Linked DNA regions of Homo sapiens: regions 2, 3, 4 and 5 are each linked to region 1. The links come from fine-mapping of genetic effects on gene expression. A gene starts in region 1. Each other region holds a variant in brackets. All regions are shown on one strand. Distances are between the middles of the regions.

What was found. PIP is the estimated chance that this variant, and not a neighbour inherited with it, causes the effect.
Region 2: its variant is the best candidate, but not a certain one, in a credible set for the expression of STXBP5-AS1 in esophagus mucosa (GTEx, PIP 0.88).
Region 3: its variant is the best candidate, but not a certain one, in a credible set for the expression of STXBP5-AS1 in whole blood (INTERVAL, PIP 0.89).
Region 4: its variant is the best candidate, but not a certain one, in a credible set for the expression of STXBP5-AS1 in whole blood (INTERVAL, PIP 0.72).
Region 5: its variant is the best candidate, but not a certain one, in a credible set for the expression of STXBP5-AS1 in whole blood (INTERVAL, PIP 0.69).

Annotation. Positions count from the first base shown.
Region 1 is chr6:147,201,539-147,206,645 of GRCh38, forward strand. It overlaps STXBP5-AS1 (STXBP5 antisense RNA 1), which reads right to left and starts at 3,076. Exons shown (of 11, transcript NR_034115.1): 1 at 2,875-3,076. STXBP5 (syntaxin binding protein 5) reads left to right here and starts at 2,879. Exons shown (of 28, transcript NM_001127715.4): 1 at 2,879-3,144; 2 at 4,433-4,530. The coding sequence starts at 2,995. LOC124901422 (a long non-coding RNA gene) reads right to left here and starts at 2,033. Exons shown (of 2, transcript XR_007059803.1): 1 at 1,278-2,033; 2 at 338-755. RefSeq lists silencers at 2,062-2,481, 2,512-2,561, 2,582-2,661, 2,832-3,021.
Region 2 is chr6:146,909,468-146,914,574 of GRCh38, forward strand. The region is part of intron 7 of STXBP5-AS1 (STXBP5 antisense RNA 1); the gene reads right to left. Among named protein-coding and RNA genes, the nearest start is that of LUADT1, 250 kb to the right of the region's middle. The variant CCT/C (reference allele first, on the strand shown) is at 2,196.
Region 3 is chr6:146,902,371-146,907,477 of GRCh38, forward strand. All of the region lies in intron 7 of STXBP5-AS1 (STXBP5 antisense RNA 1), which reads right to left. Among named protein-coding and RNA genes, the nearest start is that of LUADT1, 250 kb to the right of the region's middle. The variant A/G (reference allele first, on the strand shown) is at 2,483.
Region 4 is chr6:146,863,665-146,868,771 of GRCh38, forward strand. The region is part of intron 7 of STXBP5-AS1 (STXBP5 antisense RNA 1); the gene reads right to left. Among named protein-coding and RNA genes, the nearest start is that of ADGB, 270 kb to the left of the region's middle. The variant T/C (reference allele first, on the strand shown) is at 2,437.
Region 5 is chr6:146,816,122-146,821,228 of GRCh38, forward strand. No RefSeq gene overlaps it. Among named protein-coding and RNA genes, the nearest start is that of ADGB, 220 kb to the left of the region's middle. The variant A/C (reference allele first, on the strand shown) is at 3,019.

The sequences.
Region 1 (5,107 bases):
AGTCCCCTTTACCTCAAGGACCCTGATAGAATAGGAAACTGACATTTTTGAGTGTCTACAGAGTACTAAGCAATGCAGTACAAACTTTTCATATTCTTTCTTTTCCCCCTCCAGTTCATGCTCATAAATTTCTAAGAAGGTGGTATTAATCTCATTTTAAACCTGAGGAATCTGATCCCTAGAAAAATTTAAAATTTGCCCAAGATTACACATATTACCATGGCCTGGACTGAAGTTCATGGCTGGCTGACAACAAAGCCTATATTTTCCCACTACACCACAAAGCCTCTCAACAAGAAGTTGTCTTTTTTTTCTAGAAAGTTTTATAATCCAATGATGAAAAATTATCCAATAGATTTATTTTAGACCTAGGTAAGTAAAAAGGCAGATCATACAATTCTATGGGGTTGTGATCTGTCTGTTTTGCAATTTCCCCCTGTGGAATCACATGTACTTTTAAAAAGCTCTCAAGGTAATTCTGAGGCTCTCTTCCCCATTGTCTTCCAATGGTCTTTGCCTCCTGTTCGCTAGGTCTGCTCCTCCTTATCCGGCATGATCTATGGTGGGCGTCACCATGTCCAAGCCTTCCTGGCCAGTTAAGTGGCCCTCTGCCGTCCTCCTTCATTATTCCATCATTGGACTCATCACATCGTTTTACAATTACTATTTATGTTAAAAGTCGTCTCCGTTAGACCGTAGTGAGCTTGCTGAAAGCAAGGATTGCATTTTCGTGTCTTTAGTACCTAGCACACCGCCTGACAACAAAATGTTAGAGAACTAAATTAATAAAAAATTCAGAGCCACTTGGAAATAGTTTAGGAATGTCCTCACATTTGTTTTCTTGGTCGTTGCACCCAGCGAATCAACTAATTCAATAAATATTAAACGACAAATCAAAATTTTGTAGGTTCCAAATGCAAGACATCGTCCTGGGATGCGGAAGCTGCAGAGTGGACTACATTTCCCGAAATCCCTGGGCCCAGTCGTAGTTGGTTCGCTGACTGCTTTTGAATGCTGGTTAACTCAACCAATAGGGTGACGAGAATTTCCCTAAAGGAGAGGGAGCCGACCTCACAAAGAAGAGGGCGGGTGCTTCTGACAGGTTTGGAACTTAAAAAAACCCTTTGTGGCGGTTCCGTGGCTTTTCCGCAGACCAGAGCGCGCGAGGAGTCATTCGCTAGGAACCTGTCCCCCTCTCCCCGAATTAGGATTAGTCTTCCTGCACTTCCTTCCTTCCTTACGTCTTTCCTATTTCCACATCCTTCCTAATCAAGTACCTGTGCTTCCGTCCACCTGTCCTGTTGAACGCACTCTCCGGGGGGTTTCCCCGGCACAATCTCTTGTCTGTCTTTTCCAACTTGAGCCAGGCATTTGTCTCCAAGCATTCACGCGAGATGGGCAGTGCGGCCTCGGAAAGATCTGAGCAAAAACTTCATCCTATCCCCCTTTCCCCGTTCTAGAGTGAAGCTCCCAGGGCATTACTGAGTGGCTCATCAGCGTCAGGGCAGATTGAAGGTTCTGAAAAATAGTGGCAGCGCGGCGTTTCCTGCCACCCGCGCTCCTCCCCGGCGAGGGGCTGGGTGCGGGGTAGTGTCATCGGCCCGGGCTGACACCGGCCCTGGAACCGTTCCCCGCTGGCAGCCTCTTCCATCCCAGCAGCTAACTGCTAAGACCAGACACGTTCCACCAACAGTAACAGCTGTAGGAAAGAACCCGTTTTTTCCCGTCTAGGTTTCTCTCCTTTTCCTAGTACCTAAGTCCATCATCCTCCTGCCACTGACATATCGTTGTCTAGACGCTCTTTTTCAAAACTCAAATCCAATCAAACAAAAACAACGCCCGTCAATAAAGCAAGAAAAATAATACTGCAGCCAGCGGCCAGGAGCGTGCACCCCATTAACGGCGAGAAAGCATCAACCCCTGCTGTAATGACTGAATTGGAAAGAAAGGTTTCCTGCTGCTTGTTAGTCGTCAACATTTTTACTATGCCAGCTGCAAGAGAAGCAGCTGCATACTCTGGCAACTCGACTGGGGTGGGAGAAATTTAGCCAGCGTCTGGGATTTTCGCAGAAGATAATTTAAGCCCCAGCTTCGCTCGGGCTGGGGGGCTGGGGGCCTGCTGGGCCAGGGTGGGGGAACCGGGCTGCGGCGCGCATGCGCAGGTACCGCAGCCCGGCTCCTGGGAGGCCCTGCTGCCGCCACCGCCGCGGCCCGCGCTGTAACCGCGGCTGCCGCTGCTGCTCCGGGCGGGCGTTGGTGCCGTGTGCCGAGGCGCCCTGTCAGGCGATGGGGAGCGGCTGGGCGGGGAGAGCCGACGGCCGCGGCGGCGCCTGAGGAACGCAGCCGGGCTCGGGAGCGGCGAGGGCGGGCCGGTCCAGCGGCGGAGGAGCGAGGCGGGGCGAGGCAGGCGGCGCGGGGACCCACACCAGGCGCCTTGTGTGCGAGGCCGAGCGGCGGCCGCGGACAGAGAGCCGGCGACCCCCGGCAGGAGGAGAAGGAGCCGGAGGACGCGCCGAGGGACTGCGGGGCCGGGGCGGGCGAGCAGCGGCGCGGCCGCGGGCCATGGACGCAGCGGCGACGGTGGCGGCGCCGGGGGCGAGCCGGGGCGGCGGCGCGGCGCAGAGTCCGCCCGCGGCCAGGTGAGGCTGGGCTGAGCGGGCTCGGGCGCCGCCGCCACTGCTGCTGCTGCTGCTGCCGGGCCGCGGAGCGAGGCGGCGGCGGCGGCGGCTGAATCGGCACCACAGCAGCCGCGCCAAGCAGCGGCGGCCTCGGAGGAAGAGGGGTCGCCGCCCAGGTTTCTTGCGGCCGCCGCTCTTGTCGTCGCAGTATTTCCTGTTCGGATTATCTTTTGCTTCCCCCCAGCTGCCTCCTTACCCTCACACTCCCACTCCTCCGTTTCCGCGGTCGAAGCTGCCTTCGGCCCCGGGTGGTCTCCCCCGCCCGGGGACCCCCTGTGCCTCCCCTCCCGGGCTGCGGGGGAGCCCCTCCGAGACCATGAGGAAATTCAACATCAGGAAGGTGCTGGACGGCCTGACCGCCGGCTCGTCCTCGGCGTCGCAGCAGCAACAGCAGCAGCATCCGCCTGGGAACCGGGAGCCGGAGATCCAGGAAACGCTCCAGTCCGAGCACTTTCAGCTCTGCAAGGTGAACGGAGCGCGCAGCCCCGCGACACCGTCATTGAAAAATTGGGGTTGTTTTAAGGGGGCTACTCGGGCTTTACATGGGAATGCAAGGGAAGAGAACGCCAATAATAATAATAATAACTCTAATAAAAGGCTCGCTCCTCCCTTGGCAAACGTTTCTTCGGTGGGTTGTTTTGGAGATTGATACCTTACTCCTTTTCATTGATTTTTCTCTCTCCCCTTTGCACATGCAGCAATCAGTTCAAGGTTGCTTCAAACTATTATCCGACCTTTAATCGTATTCTGACACTGCCAGTAATAACCTGGAAGCTTTTATATTCAAGCGTTTTAATATGATTCACCAACTTCGAAGTTTCCTTTGGAAACGGTGTCTAATGAATGTTGTTTATCAAAAAGCCAAACCTGTTCTACCACACCTTTGCTCATCACTTTTCCCTTAAAATGTGGTGTAAGTGGCTTACGATATGAAATCACAGGGTTCTTTTTATCATTATGTTTGTTAAAAAGTACTGAGATTTTTGCCTGTTAATGGCACGATAATTGCCATAGCGTTCTGTAATTCAGAAAGAATGATGCAGCGAATTAAGTCACCAGCTGCTTAATGAGAAACACAAACTTGCCTCGGTTTTAATACCTGCCTTTCTCATAAATAGCCATGTATTTGTATGTCAGAGTTAATTAAAAGTGTGCATATATATATATATATATATATATATAGGTCTAATGCCCTAAAATGATTATGGCCTTAATAGTAAATTGCAAAAATGTATGTTGTACTCATCTTCATTCTGTTACAAGTGTAAAATGTTGGGATAGAGGTTTGATTATTGCTCTACTGAATGCTTGACTAAAGTAATTATATGACAGCTTTTCCTTAGAAGTACTTGCGTTAGCATCCAAATAAAGTAATGATGAAATGAATACTGCCAAAATAAAGTATGAATTGCATTTAATGGGTTTACAGAATTTTGGACCATTGCAAACTTTAGTCATCTGGTGTCGGATGTAGTAGTATAGAATATTAATAAAAGATTTTCTTCTATGGAATACCAGTATTATGGAAAAGCGAAATTAAAGTATATCACTGGACTAGATTTTTGTTTGTTTCAGGTTCTATGTGAATAACTTTGTTAATGTAGGTTTCACTTATTTTTTCAAAAGCAGTAAGTGCATGTGTATGTGTTTTGCATCAGTGGTAGTGGTTCTAAATTCTAACGCCTCTATTGACTTTCTATTTTAAAATTTCGCTTGCTGCCTTGGTTGCTGTGATGTCACTTGCCCATCCCTAGACTGTTCGCCATGGATTTCCCTATCAACCCTCAGCCCTGGCCTTTGATCCTGTACAGAAGATCCTGGCAGTGGGAACTCAGACTGGTGCTTTAAGGCTGTATCCTTTCTTTAATTTTATTTTTTAACTTCTACTTTGTTCTCCCCAGTCCTTCTGTGTTGCTGATTAGTTCCAAAGAAAGTTTTTATTTTCCTGTTGGTGTGATTAGATATATACTATGAGAAATCATGTGTTGGCTTTTCCCTTGATTATAATTCAGCTTATATACTGCTGTGATGTTTCTCAGCTCCTAGTTTATAGTAGCTAAACATATATCCAAATAGAGGTCTAAAGTTTTTTTATGATAACTATTTTATTTGTAAGGAGATAGAAGTTTCTAAGGAAAAATATATCTGCTTCTATACTATTGGTGTGATGAATGAGGTATGTTAAGGATGAGGTTTAAAGACAATTACTTTTAAAAATATTATGCATGGTAGATATTGAACTTATGACCTATTCTAATAAATTAGAGATTGGATTTCAATCTGAATTTGGTTGTTTTTGGCATGTCCGTGTAGAAAAACAATTAGCAGAAGTGTAGCAAATTAATTTTCTATGAATAGTTATAAATGGTTAATATTTCTACCAGTTTTTAGAGCGTTTTCTTGAAAAATGCATGGGGATAAATTTTTTC
Region 2 (5,107 bases), 290 kb before region 1:
GTCAGTAGACATCAGTTTTAATTCTGCCTATGCATAGTTAATGTTTGACCTTGAACAAGCAGCAACCACTCTAACCATAGTTCTTCCAACCGTAAAATCAAAGGCAGGCCTTGATGATTTCTTTAGTGTCTCATATAGTCATTGGATTGTCCTGAGGGAGCTAAACTATGCATCCTACCATCAAACAGTAACCAGTTACTACTCATGACCTCCTGTGCATAGGCTGAAATTACTTGTGCTTAATTAAGCTACTCCTCAGGAAACAGAGCTCTAAAGCTCTACATTCTGAAGATATTGTTAAACATTTTCCTTTCATGGAATAACCAGAGATAGAAATTCAAAAGATGGGATTTCCAAGTCATGGTGACATTTTGTGTCATATCACGGGGTGATCTTGTGAAAGAAGTGGTTGGCTGTCAGTTCACCTCTCTGGACATGCTTGGGCAACAACACACAACTATTGGAGGCACGAGTGAATAGATTCTGAAGCCATCCAATAGAAGCAAGTTGTTAAGTGGTTATTTCTCAGGCTGGTTTAAATCTACTAAATTCCCATTAAACCACTATAATAAAGGTTTCTAGTATGAACTTGGAGATAAAGGTGTGCCAGGGCCATGGTCCAAGTAAAGCATTTAAATGGCCAAGTGTGATGGCCAACACAAAATCCAGAATATCAAGTCAGCAATGCCTGTCTGCTGGGAGAGAAACTAAATAGTTATAGTGGTCTGAGGAGCAAACATAAATAAATGTACCGACTCTGAAGACCTTGGCACAGACAGTACAATAATGAGTTGTTTTGACAAGTCTAAAAAATGTTTGTCTCTACTCTTTCCTATGACTTGGCAACTATTTTACCTTGTATCGATTTGTTCCTCATTTCCCTTGCAACAAAATTTACCCTCTTGCTTTAAATATGATATTCTTTCCACAAAGACTATTTCTAGCACCTATACCTTCTTCCTAAATGAGTTACTGCATTTTCTTTCTTGCCCTCTGCTAATCCTCCCTCCACTGAAAAGCCAAAACAAAAGGGAAAAATTTCACCAGCTCCAAATAAAATACTGTATATTTTCCCATTATGCAAGGAGTGAAGGCAAAATGGGTGTGGAGTTCTCTGTGGACAGCTGCTTCCCTGTACAAGATGAATACTACCAGTGCTCCTTTAGACTTTAAGTCTTTGTCTCAAAGGCTTTGTCTTCAAGCCTGTCTTGTGACTGGAGTGTTTGTTAATAACTGCTCCTCCTGCACCTCCATGTCTCTGTGTGTCCACACATCCCTGCCTACTGCTTCCCATCCCTGATTCTAGACACCGGTTTAGCTACAGGAGACAAGAATCACTTCCAAAGGAAGATGTTGAATTCAGGCAACAGAATGGTAAGAAAAAAGGCCCATGTCATTGTTGTTGTTTCATTCTTAGCACACACTTTCATTTCTAATGTTTAAATTCTATGCAGTGTTTCCTGATTAGGAGTTCTGTTCCTTTTCAAGGATTCTCAGGGATCCTTTTTTTAAGTTGATTCTCAGGGATAGAGCACGTTACCTTCACCACAGTAAGTTCCTCACAGGTGTAGAGTCCCGTTTGAATAAAAACATGTGTCTTCTCAGACAAAATGTGTGTCCTCCCTGTGGCTTGCACAGCAGGGTGCCATGTCCCTCTCTGCTTTTCCCTCTCCCCTGGAGGGTCATCTTTCTTATGTGGAAATCATGATTTTTGAGAAGCTGAAGCTGAGTTGAACTATTTTCCCCTGATTCTTATCAAGGCTTAAACTATATTAAAGGAGCTACCATTTTAAAAGATCTACTCATTATACTTCTTTTAGTATCATAGTTTTAATACTTGTCATATGTCCTAATCCAAATCCTATGCTTTACAAATAATAAAAATAAGGCCTAAAGGTATAGTGACTTACCCAAGTTTACAGAGCTAATTTGTGGAGGACAGTGGAGAGTAGCCCAGGTTCTGATTTTCTGGTTTTGCATTCTGATTTTACATTCACCGCTATACAAATTTTACATTCACCACCACACAAATGGAAGAATTTTGTTATACTTCCAATAGATACATATGTGAAGATCACACATACCCATTGAATATGTTTCAATCAATCTTGATGTTGGGAATTCTTTCATGTTTGGACCAGGATGGTACTTCCATCAGAGCAGAGTATTCCGCCAAGCTAGGAGGATCTCTTCAT[CCT/C]CTAGACAGAAAAGACAGCTGACCTCAGCCCAACATTCTACTTCATAAAAGATGTTCATAGTCATGATGTCATTCTATCCTCACTAATCATAAGAGGTTGATAATATTGATAGTTTTACCTTATAGACAAGGACCCCAAGCTTCCTCAGTAGAAATCTAGCCATTAGTTCATGTCACATGACTTCACCTCCAGATAGACCTTGTTCTAGCTTGGAATCCATCTGAAGTGCATTCTAAACTAGGGGAAGCGTCCATACTTTCTTAGCTGGAGTATCCTGAGGGAGAAGAGCTCTAAAGAATAAGAAGAGCAAGGACACAACCTGACATCATGTTGCTGCCCCACCCGGCACACCCAGCCACACATATGTGCCCACAAGTTTTGATAAGAGGGTGCCTTCACGGTCCCCAAATCCTTAACATTTATGATGATGAATTCTGCATTGGGGTAGCCCATTTCTGAAATTTCAATTTGGACTTGAGTGAAAACAGATTTCCTATTAAATTCTTTTTGACAGAAACATCTCATAAACAAACAAGCATATAAACAAATATTTCTAATTTCCTCTTGGTGAATTATTTAAAGAATGCACATAAATCATGGCAATGTTTTTCCTTTGGATGACTTTTATTTATAGTTTTCTGTCTTTAAGAAAAATTTCAATAATTCATAATCACATTTTATAAAGTTGCCTTGCTGCTAAGAGCCAAGATAAAGATACATATGATTTAGCTTCCTAATATTTTATTTCTCTCTTCACCCATAAGAGGTCTGGTTTCCCAAGAGAGCTGAGCTCTGTATCAGAGGGTATTCTAATAATTTCATTGATGTATACAAAATGTATTTCCTTTTCCTAAAATGAAAAAGGAAAGTAGCAAAGGCAGTTTTCATTATACAGATTCATAGTGGTGCACCACAGTGGTCTGTGCTCATCCTGAGAGGAGGCCTGACGTATGGCTGCCAGATTTGAATATAAATGTAAACTCCTATTGCTCCACAGAATCCCATGCAGAAATAAGCTTACACCCAATGCATGGAGAAAATCAATAGTATATTATTAAAAGAGCATTCTGACTTTGTGTAGAGCCATTAAAATTAATCCCATCAGCATTAAGTCATGGGCCCTAGAGAATCACCCAGGAGAGCCATGGAATGATGGCAACCCACACAGATTAGGAAGAGAAGATGACACAGGCAGAACAGAGAAGGAAGTGTGGTCTGGCCCAAGCATTGCCCATGTCCCTTCCTGGCTGCCCTTCTTGTGAACACCTGGGGGTTCTGCATCTACACGTTCCTGGTGCCCAATCCTGAACACCACCCTGTCTCTGCTCCAGCCCTCCCTGTCTCCTGGAAGTGCTGCTTCTGAAGGCAACTGCTCTAAACCTTCTGCTTCTTTAGACAGCTGTCTGATAAAACAAAGCTTTCTGCAGGGTTCATGACTGACAATAGGGTCAAATGATCAATTGCCCCTGATCACAGACTTCCTGTGAGATGCAACACCGTAGCCCAAAGTCTTCACCCAAAGTCACGATAACTAGGAGAGAGTTTTTGACTGATACAGCCTTGTTCATTGTGGGAGAGCATGAAAGCCCTGAAAAGCCAGGAGATCTGGGTTAAAGTCCTGCCTCTACCGTCAAGTAACTCCCCTCACTCTGGGTAAGTCACTTGACCTGCCTGTGCCTTAGTTTTCTCATCTGATAAGTGAAGATTTAAAGGGTGTTTTGTGAGAGCTTAGTAAGATAATGAAAAGGTACATGCAAAGCAACACGGTGCTTTAAAAATGCAGCTATGACTTCATTTAGACATTTTGTGGAACAAACACACAGAGAGATGTTGTAACACAAGGATGTAGGAAAGACAAAAGACAGACTTAATTTATTAATCATTTCCTGAGTGTTTATTGCAAGGTGGGCATTGTTTTATGCACACGAGGTGTAGGAGCGAAAAGACAGATTGTCAATTATCTACATTACTGCTAGCATTACAGGAGTTTAAAATTATCTTTCATCTCTTGTATATTTATTGTGCATGGCATAAATCAGCCACACTAGTATCTGCATACTAGTATTGCTTTCAAACACCAATGATAGAAAATGTCCAAAGCAAATCAGAGTAAATTAATTTTTTTGCATTAATTTCTGTTTCTTTCAAATACAAAGATTCATATATAACTACTATCAAAGGCGTTTTTTGCCTTTACAGATGGTCAACATTTGTTAAAGAAGTCAGGAAAACGCAGACATGCAGGGATTAGGACATCCTTGCGTCATGGGTCTCTCAGCCTTTTCCTTAACCAGGGGTGGCTGCGCTGCACTTGAGGAGGAGGCAAGGGGCAGTCAGGCAGCCTGGAGTTCTCCTGCCCACTCTGCTGGCTCTGCTGGCTCCCCAGCCTACTTCAGCCCCAGCCTCGCAAATTCCAAACTGCTGATTCATGCTCATGATGTGAGCCTAATGACCGCGAACACGCTCTTGTTTTTCTTCTTCAGGCACATTTTCTTGGTAACCAGGCGGATGATATGCTAATGCAAGCTGGCAGACTTGATCTCAAACTACAAAAATACGCTCTGCCACGTGGAGGGGACAAAGGAGGAAAGAGACTTCAAGGCTATCCTTTTGACTCGGGTTTCCATTTTTGTCGAGAAGCACACAGCAAGTGCTCAACAAGGAGATTTGGTATTCAGAGGAGACCCACAGTGACCATTAGGATTTTAAACCACCATGAGCAGTAATTCTTCTCATTTAAAATAAATGTCCTCTAAGCTTTTTTAGTAACACACTTTATGAGACTCCGCTAGTTTCTCGTGCTGTTTCAGACAGCTCTGGGTAAGCAGGAGATGCTGAATCCAGTGAGGCAGAAAAGTCAGAATTTGCCTTTTCTCAAAATCCATCTTGGCCCCAACTTGGCTGCATCT
Region 3 (5,107 bases), 300 kb before region 1:
ATGAACGCAGTTCATTCCTTAAAGCATATCCTGGCACAAAGGAACAAGACAGTGTTCATGTAGTGGACACTTATTGTTATTTAGGTGAAAAACCTGGAAAGGCAGGAAGAAAATATTTACTCCGAGGAATATTGGTTAGTCATTAAAAAAATGTCTGAAGTACAGACAATTTGGAAAATTTACTGGTAGCTCTCCTCTCCACGAGATGGCACTCATTGTCTTCCTTCCCTTTTATTTAAAGTTTCAATGCATTCATATTTAAGAGTTTGAATATACCTATATGCACATACATATGCACATGTATGCATAGTATAGCTATGTAAATGTGTATACACACATACACATGCATATACATGTGTGTGTATATCTTAGGCTTTATAATTTACCTAGATCATTCATATTCTTTTAACCATTCAGTTGCATTTTTGACAAAACTGTCATTTACTTGGAGCCCTTGGGGACATTCAGACAGACAGTATGTAGGTTGCTGTGTTGGTAGGTGTAGGGGGAGAGTCGCCATCTTCATCTTCTTCACTCCCACCCCTTGTTCTGCTTTGCCAAAAGACAAAAATACAAAGTTGCCTTGGAGCCTGGGCATCTACCCACAATAGGCAAGAATAAAGCCAGTAACCACATAAACAGAGAATAAACAAGAATGTAATGGGATGAGCTATTTATAGAAAGGCTACCCATCTAGGTTGTTAAGGGACTGAGCAGCCTACTTATTTGAAAAGCTGGTAACATTTTTAAAAAAACATTGAGGTTCACTCCCCTCAGGAGGAATCTTGCTCCTGTTAGCATCCAAGGCCTGAGAACAACTGTTTTCTTTTGTTAGTAAGGGCTAATTTTAATTAAAACAAGATCTCCTTTTCTTGAGGTTCTCCCACCATGCATTCCAGTCTTGTGTTCTGGTTAGAATGCTTCATCAATAGCCGACTTCAGTGTGGATTTGGAGGTCTGAGACACAATTACAGTAACTGGAGAATCAATTAGGGCTTTGGATCATTATGCAGCAATTCTATTTTTATTACGTTAGCACTAAAGTGGGGGAAAGATCAGGAACTCAGACTCTATAGAAAGGCAGATCAACTAATCTATAGGGGAAATGCAAGTTTCTCAGCAACAACAACATCAACACACATTAGCAGGCTGGAAATTCAACTCAAATTGACCGTGTGGGCATTCAAACCAAGCGGGCACTTGGAAGACGGAGATGATAAAGGTCCTTAGAGGACTTACTCATTCAACATGCGTTAGACAATAGCAGCCAGTCCCTCCCGCCTTTGCAGGGGTGCCTTCCTCTTGAGGCCTCTTCCTCTCCAGAAGGAAGCGTTGCACTCCCTACTTGCATGTATTAGTTTCCCTCTATGTAAATCCCCGTAGCTCATATTTATAAAGCACTTTGTTGGTTTCACACAGGTGACATCTAAGAATCATCTTTGTTCTTCTCAGCCACAATGGGGAGGAGGTTGACATGTTCATCCTAATTTTACAGATAAGTTCTGAATAGGGGTTCATGATTTGTCCAAGGTCACAAACTATGTAGAATCAATGCCTAAAATAGAGAACTGGTCCCCAGACCTGTAGCCCACACTCCCTTTTACCTGATCACATAAAAAGCCTAAGATTGATATATCATAGGAAATAAACCTTTGTTTTCTTCTCTAGCATATGCAGGAGTATCGTAAGCCAAAGTTCCCAGTGGATATTTTACATGTGACACTTTCTACCCCTAAACATTGTTTGCTATAGCCTTCTTGAGGATGGAGTCATGACCTCAGAGAAAGGGCACAGTATATTTCATTTCTCCTAGTCCCCAGACTGGATTTTCATCACGGCTGGTGCCAGGTTCTTTTTTAGTACTGCACCGGGCGTATGAGAAAGAGCTTATTTTCATGACTAGCAAGGGCATCATTCAAAAGACAATTTGAACGTGGCCTTTTATGTATTTTTTTGCAAAGCTGTTATTTGGATAACCTTCAGGGAAATCCTTAAAACACTGAAAATGAAAACCATTAACAATGTGTTAGACACACATATACAGAAGAGCTGATAATGTTGAGTGCATGTGTATATTCTGTATCCGTGTGTGTGTGTGTGTGTGTGTGTGTGTGTGTGTGTGTTGAGGGAAATAAGAGATTTGTTCTCTGGGAAATAGCTGATCCAGAAACTGTCATTAATTCATAGGCCAAAAAGCCAAACTCCTATTTTGCAGCCCTTTCCCCATGGACTTAAGGAGTCTGAGGATTAAAAAAAAAAAAAAAAGTCTGAGGTATAAATACGATCATAAAGAGACATTCAAATTTGCTTTCTTCAAAGATTTTGCTCTGAGCTACCCACGACTGCCTGAGACATGTCAGATCTTCAAGAAGTGGCTAGCTCTACTCTGAGAAGCTTTCTGTTTCTGCTTGCTACCCAGGCAACCAAAATGTCAGTGTGCACATGTGCATGCGTGCATATAAATATATACACATCTCTCACC[A/G]TCTTATTCTTCACGTGCTACCTGTCTGCGTATATGTGTTTATATACATGTATGCGTATGTCTGTGTCACATGTACATTTAGAGGTGTTTTTGCTATTTGAATTTTTGCTTCTTTTTATTTTTGAAGACCAATGGAAAAGTGTTTGAAGACAGCAGATTACATTAAAAAATCAGTTTCACCGACTGGCTCTCAGATACTGGGTACATGTATGCACACACACACCTCTTCTACCCCCTCTGATTAATAGATGCTTCCTCTTAAGTCCTTTAAAAGAGGCATTCTTAGGCACATTTCTCTGCCAAAATGTAGTGGATTCCTCTTTGAAGCTGTGACCCTGTTGATTTTGTTCACTGCCAAATTTCACATCATGAAAAAAATAGCTTAATATTGGAGTGATTAACTTTCATGGAGAGCTGACAGAATTGAGTTCTTCAAAACCTAAACTCTGCCAATTTTGATGTCCCTAATTTATTCCAACAACCATTTAAGTCTAAATGCTTCCATTTTAATCACATTAACAGTATATTACAAAGAGACTGAACACCCAGAGGACTCCAGTTGCAAAATGAATTTGGCTCTTCCTTGTCCTCTTTATCTTTAGAATGATCAAATAGCTGCTGGCAAAAATGTTCAGCTAGAGTCAGCCCTCTGGCAATTTCCCATTGAGTCCCTCTGCTTCCTTAGCCAGAGGCCTGAACCTTGGCACTTGCCCAGACATCACAGAGGAAATAAACATACCTATTATCCAAGCAACCACAAAGATGCCTATCTGACCATTGCTGGCATTAGGTTTACCTGGACAGCTGCATTTGACTGGGGCTAAAGAGAGGCAGCTTTGTGAAACTAATCCACATCAATTCCTATCAACCTGGAGGCCTGATTGGCACCACGATCTAACCAGGGAGGCTGCAGCAGTGGCCCTGGGGAAACTGTGTGTTCCTGGTACCCCTTCTGGGTCTCACCAGTTGATAAAGTATCAGGCCTTCAGTGGGGCCAGTGCAGAGATTTGTTTATACCAAGGCTGAGCCATTGCCAGTTTGCCCATTCCTCTGGTACTGTACTCACATAAAGGTGCAGGAAAGCTGAATATTTAATGCAGGTATTTTATTTGAAACCAAGTGCTCCTGTTCTCCAGGGTCTACTTTCTGCCACCAGCCTACATCCTAGGAAATAGAATAAACATTTTTCTGTACTGCATAAGCCAAGCTATTTTCATATTTAGTTTCCCAACAGCCATCAACTGCATATGTGTGCAGACCCTGAAAACTCAAATACCTCCTTACTGTTTTGGCAGTGTTACATGGTGGTTATAAGCTAGGGTGTTCCTGTCAGAGAGACTGTGCTAACCTCTCAGCTCTGTCACTCATGGTATAACTTGCAGCAAGTCATTTCTGCTCTCTGAGATTGTTTTCTCAACTACTAACATGGGTAAAAGAATTGTATCTACTTCACACAGTGCTGCTTTGAGAAACAAGTGAGGTAATGCACAAAATTAAGAATCTGGTCTATAGTAAGTGCTAAATTATGCACTTCATGTAAGTGTATTTTATATATATATATATATATATATATATATATATAAAGTGTTTAACCAGTGTTATTGATATAGGAATATTACAAATATTTTCCACTTTTTAATTGCTTGAATTCAAGATTGCTACTCAGTAACAATACAGAAAAAGAGATGAGGAGGTTACAAGTTATTTCAAGCTTGAGATACGACTTCTTTAGAGGTTTTTGTTATTACTATTGAGCTTTATTGGATTAGAAGATGCTAGCTTCCAGAATTTCTATTACGCTATGGGCTCAGGGACTGCAATATGTTGGAAGAAAAGCTGGGGATTGTCTTAAAGTTGCATTTACATACTAAGCCCACTCATTTTCCTTAGGTTATGTGATCGTTTAAGGTAGCTCTGTGATGACAGGCACTGATGGAGATACAAGGATGCCATCTCTTGGTATCTTCACATTTACATCCCTCCTAGTCTACCCCTGGGTGTTCCATGTCATCCTTATTCTGGCAATTTCATCTCCTCTGGCCATGAACAATTAAGGATATTTTTAAAAACTTATTTTACAAAGTCCCATATTTCCACTTAAAAATCTTTGAAATAAATACATTATGAAAACAGAATTAAACACTTAAACACAGGTTATTTTTGTCCTCTTTGTTAACCCAAGGCAGTATCTTCTAAAGCCAGGGCTCTGTTGATAACTTTGGTTGGTTTCATGACAACTTCTATAGTTAGAATCCCATGTTGAAAGATGAACTGAATGAGACAAATATGAGGTAATTTTCCTCAATCAGACAATAAAAGTGATGGGAAAACAATATATTTTTTAAAGTTTAACTTTTATTTATCAACAAATACTCTTTTTTTCTTTTGAAACAGAATCTTGCTCTGTCACCCAGGCTGGAGTGCAGTGGCACAATCTTGGCTCACTGCAACTTCCACCTCCCAGGTTCAAGTGATTCTCCTGCCTCAGCCTCCTGAGTAGCTGGGACTACAGGCGTGTGCTACCACGCCCAGCTAATTTTTTGTATTTTTAGTAGAGATGAGGTTTCATCATGTTAGCCAGGATGGTCTCGAGCTCCTGACTTCGTGATCCGCCCGCCTCAACCT
Region 4 (5,107 bases), 340 kb before region 1:
CGCCTGGCTAATTTTTTCTATTTTTCAGTAGAGACGGGGTTTCACGGTGTTAGCCAGGATGGTCTCGATCTCCGGACCTCGTGATCCGGCCGCCTTGGCCTCCCAGAGTGCTGGGATTACAGGCGTGAGCCACTGCAGCCGGCCAGTCAATCTTATTTCGTCATTACCCTCACCCCTGCTTTCTCCTCCCTGGATTGTTTTGAAGCAAATCCCACATACCATACAATGTCAGCCGTACCTTCTCATATGAACCTGGGAGCAAATTCTCCAAATGACAAAATCAATGGAAGACATTTGGGGGGCCTTGCCCTTATAGTGGGTGCTGGAGTTACAAAGGTGAATACAATTGTGCCACGTTTCGGTCTTTTTGGAAAACACTACCCCTCATGTGTCTGTAAAAATTGACTCTTCTTTTTGTGCTAACACTTCCTTTTTTGGCCAAAATCTTTCTAAAAATAGACAGCAAGCCCCCTCCTGCTGCCTGTTTCTTAAACTTTCCTCTCATGAAGGTGAGCTAGGATTGTACAATTACAATGCTTTGAGAATTTTGTTCCTTTTGAGCTGTCTTTACTTTTCAAAGCCTCTAGTCATGCTATTGGACCTATCTTTTCCTCTAATAATTAAAAAAGTCTCTATATTGTGTTATTCTCTGTCTTTTCATCCCAGTTTACTATGATTAACGTGGTTACCATCTCCCCAGGTTCTTCCCGTTCATTTACCTTCACCATTTCATTTCACCTTGCATTTCTTCCCAGTTGCTCAGACTTCACTTCACAGTAGTAATTTTCTTTTTCTTTTTTTGTACCTTCTGAAAGGGCAGTCTAATGACAAAGTCAGTCGATAATTGCTCAGAAGATCTGTATTCACCAGAAAGAGTCTTTCTGCTGATATTCAGAAGATCAAATTTTAAGCTCAGCATGAACCAAGATCCAGTTACACTGCACACACACAAACGGAAAAACCACCATAGTATGTATGAGGGAAAGATCAGACCATACAATCATTATGTGATAATGTATTAATAATAGATGGTATAATGAACCAAAAATTAGCTTGGCAACACTCCCAGGTACTTTTCATAAAATAATTTCCATAACCTGCTTTGCCTATGAAGAAGGGAACACATTATCCCACAATTACTTGGGGGTGGAATGATTAGCGTGGGTCCAGGACGCGGCCCGGGGACTCTGTGGTTGGCCTTACACCTTTCCAGACAACGTCCTTGGCCTCTCCCCTACTACAGCATGTGTAGCTGTGTGTGGGATGGAGGCTAAAAGCCTGGTTATGCTCCACAGAATGAATTCTTATGTCCCTGAGCTCTTCTCAGAAAACATGCAGGGAGTCTCTGCCAGCTGCAGAAGTTCAGCTCCTAGGAAGAGGGGATGAATTTCTGTGTTTTATTTCAATGGTGTAGCATGAGTGTGCAGAGCCAACAGTATGATAACTGGTGGTCCTCACGTATGTCTTGGCTACATCATCCTGTGACATGGTCCTGAGGCTGACCAGGGGATGGAGCTGACCGTCAGAGCCCCAAATTTAGCATGAGGCATAGCCAATATATGGGACAAAGGTCAAAATTTATGTCACAAAAGGTAACCTGGGACTTGCCTGTCACTGCAGATCCTGCACTCTACAACATAGCAGTGTTTAGTGCCTGTTTAGGTTGTAAGGGTCATCAGGTCTTCTAAGGAGTCACAGCATATATAGCTATATTTTCTGAATATAAATCTATGTGTTAAACGAAATGACACAGGACAGGTCATGGAGAGCATAGAAGAACTGTGTTTGGAGACTCATAAGTGCTCTGGTCTGGGCATCAGAAACTTGATACAGTTTGCATCACATCCAGGAGGAAGGATCATTCAGGCATTTGGATTTCGTTGCATTGCTGACATCTGTCAGAAACCCAGCTAACAGCCATTGGCATGAACAGCACAGTTAAAATGAAATGGATCTATTCCATGAGAAGCTCAAAACTGTAGCTGGTTTACAAAGTGTTTTTGTCTAGCCACATGCATCATCAATTTAATATTTCAATGTTTCAAGTTTATTTCCATGAATGAGATTTCATTTACCCCCACACACTCACTTAACCTATTGAGTGGTTCTAAGTTATTAACAAATACAGTCGCCAAAAAGGTGATTATTTTAGAAAGAACAGAGAAAACCTATCAGTTACATCTTTATTTATCTTAGACTTTTAGGCAGCGCCTCTAGAAAGTGCTGAGCAGAAGCTTAATATGGGAGTGAAGAAAACCAACTTGTTTATCTACCTCTAAGTCACAAAGGCTGTTCTGCACACAGCTATGAACTTCTGGGAATAGAAAAGCCACTTAGCAAGTTAGCAGGTGAGGTCAGAGTAGACGCATATTCTCTGGGCTCATAAATTAGCCAAGGAAGAGACGACACCCTAAATCATCTTTATGGGGCCTAAAC[T/C]GTAGAGTATCAAAAGCAAATGCATATTTAGATGTAACATATTTGCCAAAATAATTGGACTTTTATTACATTTCCCCTGTGACCTTAATGACCTTGCATATATTTATCTTCCAACTAGACAACATATTTGTGGATACGTGTTACTCACACATAGGTTTCTGTTAACACTCAAACTGAACCACTCAAAAGGGGTGTCATTTGTGAAGTCCAGGGAAAATCATCATAAAGGCAGCTCTTAACACCTAGGTCACAGGGAGGCTTATTTGCCTAAAAGAAATGCTCATGTTACAAAGGGGTCCTTTCTGCCATTTTTGTTTGAAAACAGACTCCTCTAAAATATGCCGATATCTGTAGAAAAGGAGCAAGAAGAGTTCCCCTCCAGAGGCTGCTCCCTGGAGAGTCACAGAGATCCTCGCATTTCTCCCATAGTATTCTTCCCAGGCTGCCCATTTCAGCGCAGCATTGACCAACACGTTTCAAGTCCATAAGCACTTCCAAATGTTGAATTAGAGAATCTCATAATATATCCACAGATTAATCGAACTAATGATATTCATAGGTAGCCAGGATGGGTCACGTTTTTCAGCTTGTAGTTAAATAAAATCACATCTCTTTCTCTTGTATGCCTCCCCTCTCAATTAATTTTTCAGTTCCCACAGTTTGGTTTTTAGAAAAATATCCAGTATAACCTATTCAGGTTCCCTCCTACTGCCTTGTCCAAGAACACTATGGACTTATTCATTCCAAAGGGTTCATTCTGTACAAGAACACTAGGCAGCCGGTTGAAGAGAGAAAAAACTGGAAAGTCTGGTCAGTGTACTAGTTACTGATGCTGACACCAGGCTCTACTGCTAGAAACTGGATCTGCAGAATCTGAACCAGCCCTCCCTGGCTAACACTCAAAGGCTTTTGGTTGCACCAAAGTCACCCGGGCAATTGACCACATTCCTTCTTGTAGGTTTCTCTTTGGAAGACTTGGTTTCCATTCTTGCCAACGGATCTTTAAGTCATCCAGATACAAACTATCCTAACTTCAAACACAAAGTTCAGTCCTCGGTTCCTTGCTTCCCTGAAGCCCCAAGGATTCCACACCATTTATTTATTTAATTAATTAATTAATTTATTTATTTATTTATTTATTTTTTAGGGCACAGAGAGGGAAGCCTTCAAGTAGCAGAAGGCCCTGGTCTATTCTTTTCCCAGAACAGTTGAGTGTCTCTTCAACCTACCTAGGTATCACCAAGCTTTGGGTCACCCTATGCAGAATCAAGAATCCCCACTCCAAGAAACCTCATCATAGAAGACAGCACACTTGGAAAGGATCCTACTCCACTCAATGCCCAGTGACACCTGCCATTCTTTTGCTTTGCACAGATTTCTTAAAGTGAAGGGTGGAAATATCTCTGGATCATGTCTTTGCTCTAGTCTCTGTTATTGTGTTGTAATCTGAGAAAAATCATTTATTTTCTCCATTAAGAGTAGACTAGGAATTTTCTAACTTACCAGTTTAGTAGATCAGAAGTTTTTAAAGCTTTTCTTTAGCCTCAGAATCCTTTTTATTCCCTACATTTTACAAGTATGAACTTTTACTATCATATTCTCAGGTGTTCCTGAGCCATAATCTTACTTTCTGAAAGCAAATTTTATTTATTTTTTAAATGTTATGTTAGGTTCAGGGGTGCATGTGCAGGTTTGTTATATAGGTAAACTTGTGTCACAGGCGTTTGTTGCACAGATTATTTTTTCACCCAGATACTAAACCCAGTACCCAACAGTTATTTTTTTCTGCTCCTCTCCCTCCGCCCATCCCTCACCCTCAAGTAGGTCCCAGTGTCTGTTGTTCCCTTCTTTGTGTCCCTGTGAGTTCTCACCATTTAGCTCCCACTTATAAATGAGAACATGCAATATTTGGTTTTCTGTTCCTGCATTAGTTTGCTAAGGATGATGGCCTTCAGCTCCATCCATGCTCCTGTAAAGGACGTGATCTCATTCTTCCTGAAGCCAAATTTTAACATATGACACAGAACCCCCAATTTTTCTTAGGTAGAGAACTTAATCTAGTCAATCCCATTTAAACCTAATAAATTTTGTTGATGTCTCTATCATGCTGGGTTGAAAAATCAAGCACACTGAAGGCTATTTGCCATTTTCTACTTCCTCACTGAGAGAGGAATTTTATAAAATTAGAGGCAGTATCTCAGAGGAGAGGTAGGACGCTTTATGATTTTATATTTGTATCCCTATTCTAGCAAATGTTCTGGAGTTCGTTTATAGAACCAGCTTCCCCTCTGCACACAGAGGGTCGTGCTCAACCCACCCTTCCAGTTCCCATCTCATCTGTTGCGACTTTGAATGCTTCTTCTAGAAGACCAATTGCCGAGGCCTGTAGGCTCCACTGGCCCAAGGGTAAAGAGACATGGGCCTGCCCCATTCACTCTCTGTATTGCTTTGGCCATTCATCTAATCTCTTTGAGTTTTGGTTTCCTCGCTAGTAAAATAAAGAAATAAGATGGTCTCAAATCTTCTCCCACTTTTAGAATTATACATCTGATGAATTATGAACACTCAGATTCTTGGATTCTTCCAAGTCCTTTAAAGCAAACCCTATTACTCCTTGCAAGTAAATATTAGACAACCTCAACCCCTATCAATTCTGCAATTTACATGCAGT
Region 5 (5,107 bases), 390 kb before region 1:
ATTATGTCAGACATGCAAGCCCTGCCTCAGTTTTTGTCCCAACACTCAGCTTTTTCCTAACACTTGTTGCCTAGGCGGGAGTGCAATGGCGCAATCTCAGCTCACTGCAACCTCCACCTCCTGAGTTCAAGTGATTCTCTTGCCTCAGACTCCTGAGTAGCTGGGATTAGGGGTGTGGCTACCACGCCTGGCTAATTTTGTATTTTTAGTAGAGACGGGGGTTTCACTAGGTCGACCAGGCTGGTATTGAACGCCTGACCTCAGGTGATCCACCCACCTCGGCCTCCTAAAATGCTGGGATTACAGGCTGGAGCCATGGCACCCGGCCAATTTCTGTAGAGACAGGGTTTCGCCATGTTTCCCAGGTTGTTCTCAAACTCCTGAGTTCAAGAGATCCATCCATGTCAGCTTGCTTCCCAAAATGCTGGAATTACAGGCATAAACCACCATGCCTAGCTTAAAAATATTTAATACTCCCATATATGGTCGACTAATTTTGGACAAGGATGCCAAAAATACACATGATGAAAGAAAATCGTTTCAAAAATGATGTTGGAAAAACTAAATATCCACATGCAAAAGAATAAAATAGGAACATTGCCCTATGCTGTATAAAAAAATTAAATAGATTAAAGATTTAAATGTAACATTGGAACTCATAAAACTCTTAGAAGATTGCCTACAAAAAAATCTCCTTGACATTGGTCTTGGCAATTTCTTTTGGAGATGACACCAAAAGCACAGGGAACAAAAGCAAACATAAACAAGTAGGACTACATAAAAATAAAAAGCTACTGCGCGACAAAGGAAACAACAAAATGAAAAGACAATCTATAGAATGGGAGAAAATACTTGTAAACTGTATATCTGATAAGGGGCTAATATTTAAAATATATTAAACTCATGTAACTCAATAGCAAAAAAAGCAAATAACCTGGTTTTAAAATGGGCAAAGGACTTGAATAAACACCAATCCAAAGAAGACACAGGAATGACCAACAGGTATATGCAAAGGTACTCAGCATCATTAACCATTAGAGAAATGCAAATCAAAACAACAATGAGGTATCACCTCACACCTGTTAAGATGGCTTTTATAAAGACAAGAGATAAGTGTTGGGGAGGGTGTGGAGAAAGGGAACCCTGTACACACTGTGGTGAGAATGTAAATTGCAATAGCCATTACAGAAAACAGTATGGAAGTTTCTCAAAAAATTAAAACTAGAGCTACCATATGATCTAGCAATCCCACTCCTGGGTATATATTAAAGGAAACGAAATCAGTATGTCTATGAGAGGTCTGCAACCCTCTGTTCATGGCAGCATTATTTACAATAGTGATATGGAAACAGCCTAAGTGTCCATCAATTGATGAATGAATAATGAAAATGTGGTATATATATATATAATGGAATATAATTGAACCATAAAATAGAAGGAAATCCTGCCATTTGCAACAACATAGATGAACCTGTAGGGCATTATGCTAAGTGAAATATGCCAGAAACTGAAAGAAAAATAATGCATAATCTCACTCACATGTGGAATTGTGAAAGTTGAACTCATAGAAGCAAAGTGTAGGACAGTGGTTACCAGAGACTTAGGGGTGAGAGAAATGGGGAGATGTTGGTCAAAGAGTACAAACATTTAGTTATAAGCTGACAAATTGTGTATCTCAGGCACAGAACGGATGGTGCCATCAGAATCAATAGTAGTAATTAAATTGAATATATTAATCATTATTCAGTGTATACATATATCAAACCATCATGTGGTATACTTTGAAAATATACAATGTTTATTTTTCAAAAAATTTTTTAAGTTTACATGAAAAAGTTAATATTTTATACACCTCCCCAGTTGTATATGTAATGTTACTTAATAAATGCAAATGTGCATTTTTACATTATTCTTTGCCTACTCTTAGCTTCACAACCTTATGACCCCAGCTCCCAAAGTACATACATAGAAACAACCTATTTTGAATGTTTCCATATTTTTCATTCATCTCATATGCTCACACCTCAATATTTTATATTATATCCTGGTTTGTTTTACAAAATGGCATTCTTTAAAGCATAATACAATGTGTCTTGCTTTTTCTCACCAAACAACACAGAATCTCTTGAAGTCACTGTTAATTCTTTTTAATTGTTATGAAATATTCCATGGTACAAATATACCATAATTTATTCATAAATTTATGAATTTTATATATACATATATGTGTCTGTGTGTATATATATATTCAGGTAGTGTGTGTATATATATATTCAGGATATTCAAGTACTAACATTAATATTATATATTCTTTAAGTTAGATAAAAATTCATCTGCAAACAATTTGTCATTATAATTTAAATGATGTATTTTTGATCAATTACTTTCTTTCAGATATTTTTTGCTATTATTTGTTTGATAGTTTTCACTTGCTTTCTTTTACTTTTCTTGCTGTGCCTTTTTTTTTTTTTTTTTTTTTTTTTGAGATGGGGTCTCCCTCTGTCTCCCAGGCTGGAGTGCAATGGTGTGATCTCAGCTCACTGCAACCTCCACCTCCCAGGTTCAAGTGATTTTCCTGCCTCAGCCTCCTGAGTAGCTGGGATTACAGGTGTGTGCCACCACGCCTGGCTAATTTTTTTTTTTTTTTTTTTTTTTAGAGACAGGGTTTCACCATGTTGGTCAGGCTGATCTCGAACTCCTGACCTCATGATCCGCCTGCCTTGGCCTCCCAAAGTGCTGGGATTACAGATGTGAGCCACCGTGCCCAGCCTGCTGTGTTTTTTAAACTATTACTCTTTAAGCTTTTTCTATTTCTGATTTTTGCTATTTTTCCAAAGCTCTGATAGTTTTTTTGTAGCTTATTTTGAATCATTATGTTACATTTTTCTTCTGATCAAAGCATACTTCTCTGGGATGTTTTCATTTTCTATTATTTGTTTCATTTTATCTCATCTTTAATAACAGATTTTCCCCCATTATTTAAGAGATTGAGTTTTATAAACTATTAGAAGCAGGTTC[A/C]TATAAATGACAAAGAATCTAAAGGAACTCTCCCAGCTTTATGGATGGAGGATGCCCCACAATGAGAGACTGAGGCAAGAGTTTCATCAATGTCTCGAGATTTGTTAAGCTTGAGGGGGTGCCCAAAAAAAAAAAAAAACAAAAAAACACGAGTCACAGAAACATCTGTGCTTGTGTTCTCTGAAGGGGTTTTCAGGAAGTTCAATGTTTATACATTTCTTTAAAGGGGGGAAGGCATGTAGGAAGAGGCAGGTACGTGGTGAGGCAAATGGTTACATTTTTGTGAGATTTTAATCAGTGCCCATGAAATGCACATTTTATATCAGATAAGGTGAACATTCCAAGAACAAGGGAGTAAAGGAAGAATCAACCATGCAGACATCTCAGGTTAGGTGGAGGAATGATTGATCCCTTCTTGTATGTTCTGCACCTGGGAAGACAAACTTGTTATCGACATTGTCAGTGTGAATTCTAACAGACTTTAGTTTTCGGTACTAGACTTGGATTGCAGATCTAAAGTTGTAATTGACATGCCCTTGTTTTATGGGAACGTACACATTTTTGAAAGGTTTCCAGGCCAGCAAAGAACTCACCTAGGAACAGCTTGGACAGTGAAGCTTTTTGCCTTTCTGTGGGGTCTGACAAATGTACAATGCTTTGACACAAGGTTGTGAAGAACAAGCTATTCATTTGGGAAAAGAATGGCAGTGTTGCATGACTCAGCCTCCAGGCTCTCCAGGCTTATCTTTCCCTTTGGCGTAATGAGTTTGGGGGATCTGAGATTTTTATTTTCCTTTAGAGTTGTAATCATCAAAATATGGCCTGATTTCCCATTTCTCTGTCTGTCAGAGAAAATTCTGCTTTATGACAGATTTTGAGTTTTTTGCCTCTAAGCCTCTGTTTCCTAGATTTCTGTGGACCTTGGTTTTCAAGACAGTTCTATCTTTAGATATTTTTTCTCTTGCGGTAATCTGAATCCGTGACCCTTTGGTCTCAGCATTCTTTCTCCCCTTTCGCCAGCATTTTTCTCAGTTTGCTTACTTCTTCAAACGGTGTTCTCCTACTTTAAGGCAAGTTCTTCTGGATATTTCTTAGAGTTTCAAGTGGAATTTCATGGATATTAGGGTCCGTTGGTGGTTTTTGTGTTTTCACCTGTGCCAACCATACAGGTCTAAATGCTCAGATAATCCTGCTGATTGTCTTTATTTGGGCCACAACTACAGAGGCAGGATTTTCTTTTTCTCGGTCGCTTTGCAAGCCAGGGACCCCCAGCCAGTGATGCCCTACCTGGGCCGCTCTCGGGGATGATACTGTGCCCCAGCTCACCTGTGTTATAGCTTGTACTTGTGTTCTGTGGTTCCCAAGATCTTCTACTGCGCCCAAGAAGAATGAAGATGCACTGTACATTGAAGTGTGAGGAGGGTGGAAAAGAATTTTATTGAACGATGAAACAGGTTTTAGCGGAGAGGGGATATAGGGGTGGTTCCCCTATCTGAGGGCAGGAAAATCCCTCCCCTGTTGCTGGCTCTGGGGCCTCTTATGGACTCAGAATGGAGAGTGTGTGCTGATTGGTTTGTGAGTATGCAAAAAAGATTAAAGCGAAGACATCACTCAAATGTGGGCATGACAGTGTAGAAAACCAATTAGGAAAGGGTAGGTATATGTAAAATAGGTGAAGGGTGGGGATCAATCAGAGGAAAGCATGGAGGATTTAACCTGTAGCTTGGCTTTCAGGCTTTAAACTGTCTTTGGCTTCGAGGTGGGGTTTCACCAGGGGCCCGCCCCTATCTGCCTAGGCATTTGGCTGCCTCCTGCCACTCTCAATACCACTCTTGTTTATGGGAATTTCTTGTCATCTAATTTTGCTAGCAATTTATCTGAGTTTTGTTTTTTGTGGGGGGTGTGTGTGTACTTGCTTTGCCATCACAATTGTATTTATAGTTTTCAGGAGTAGTTTTGGGGAAAAGCAAAAATATGACACATCATTATCCTGCCACTAGAAGTGTGTTACTTATTTATAATTTTATTTGCTTATAATCAGACTACACGGTCCCTAGAATTTTTACTTCTAAAAAATTTATTAAGACTT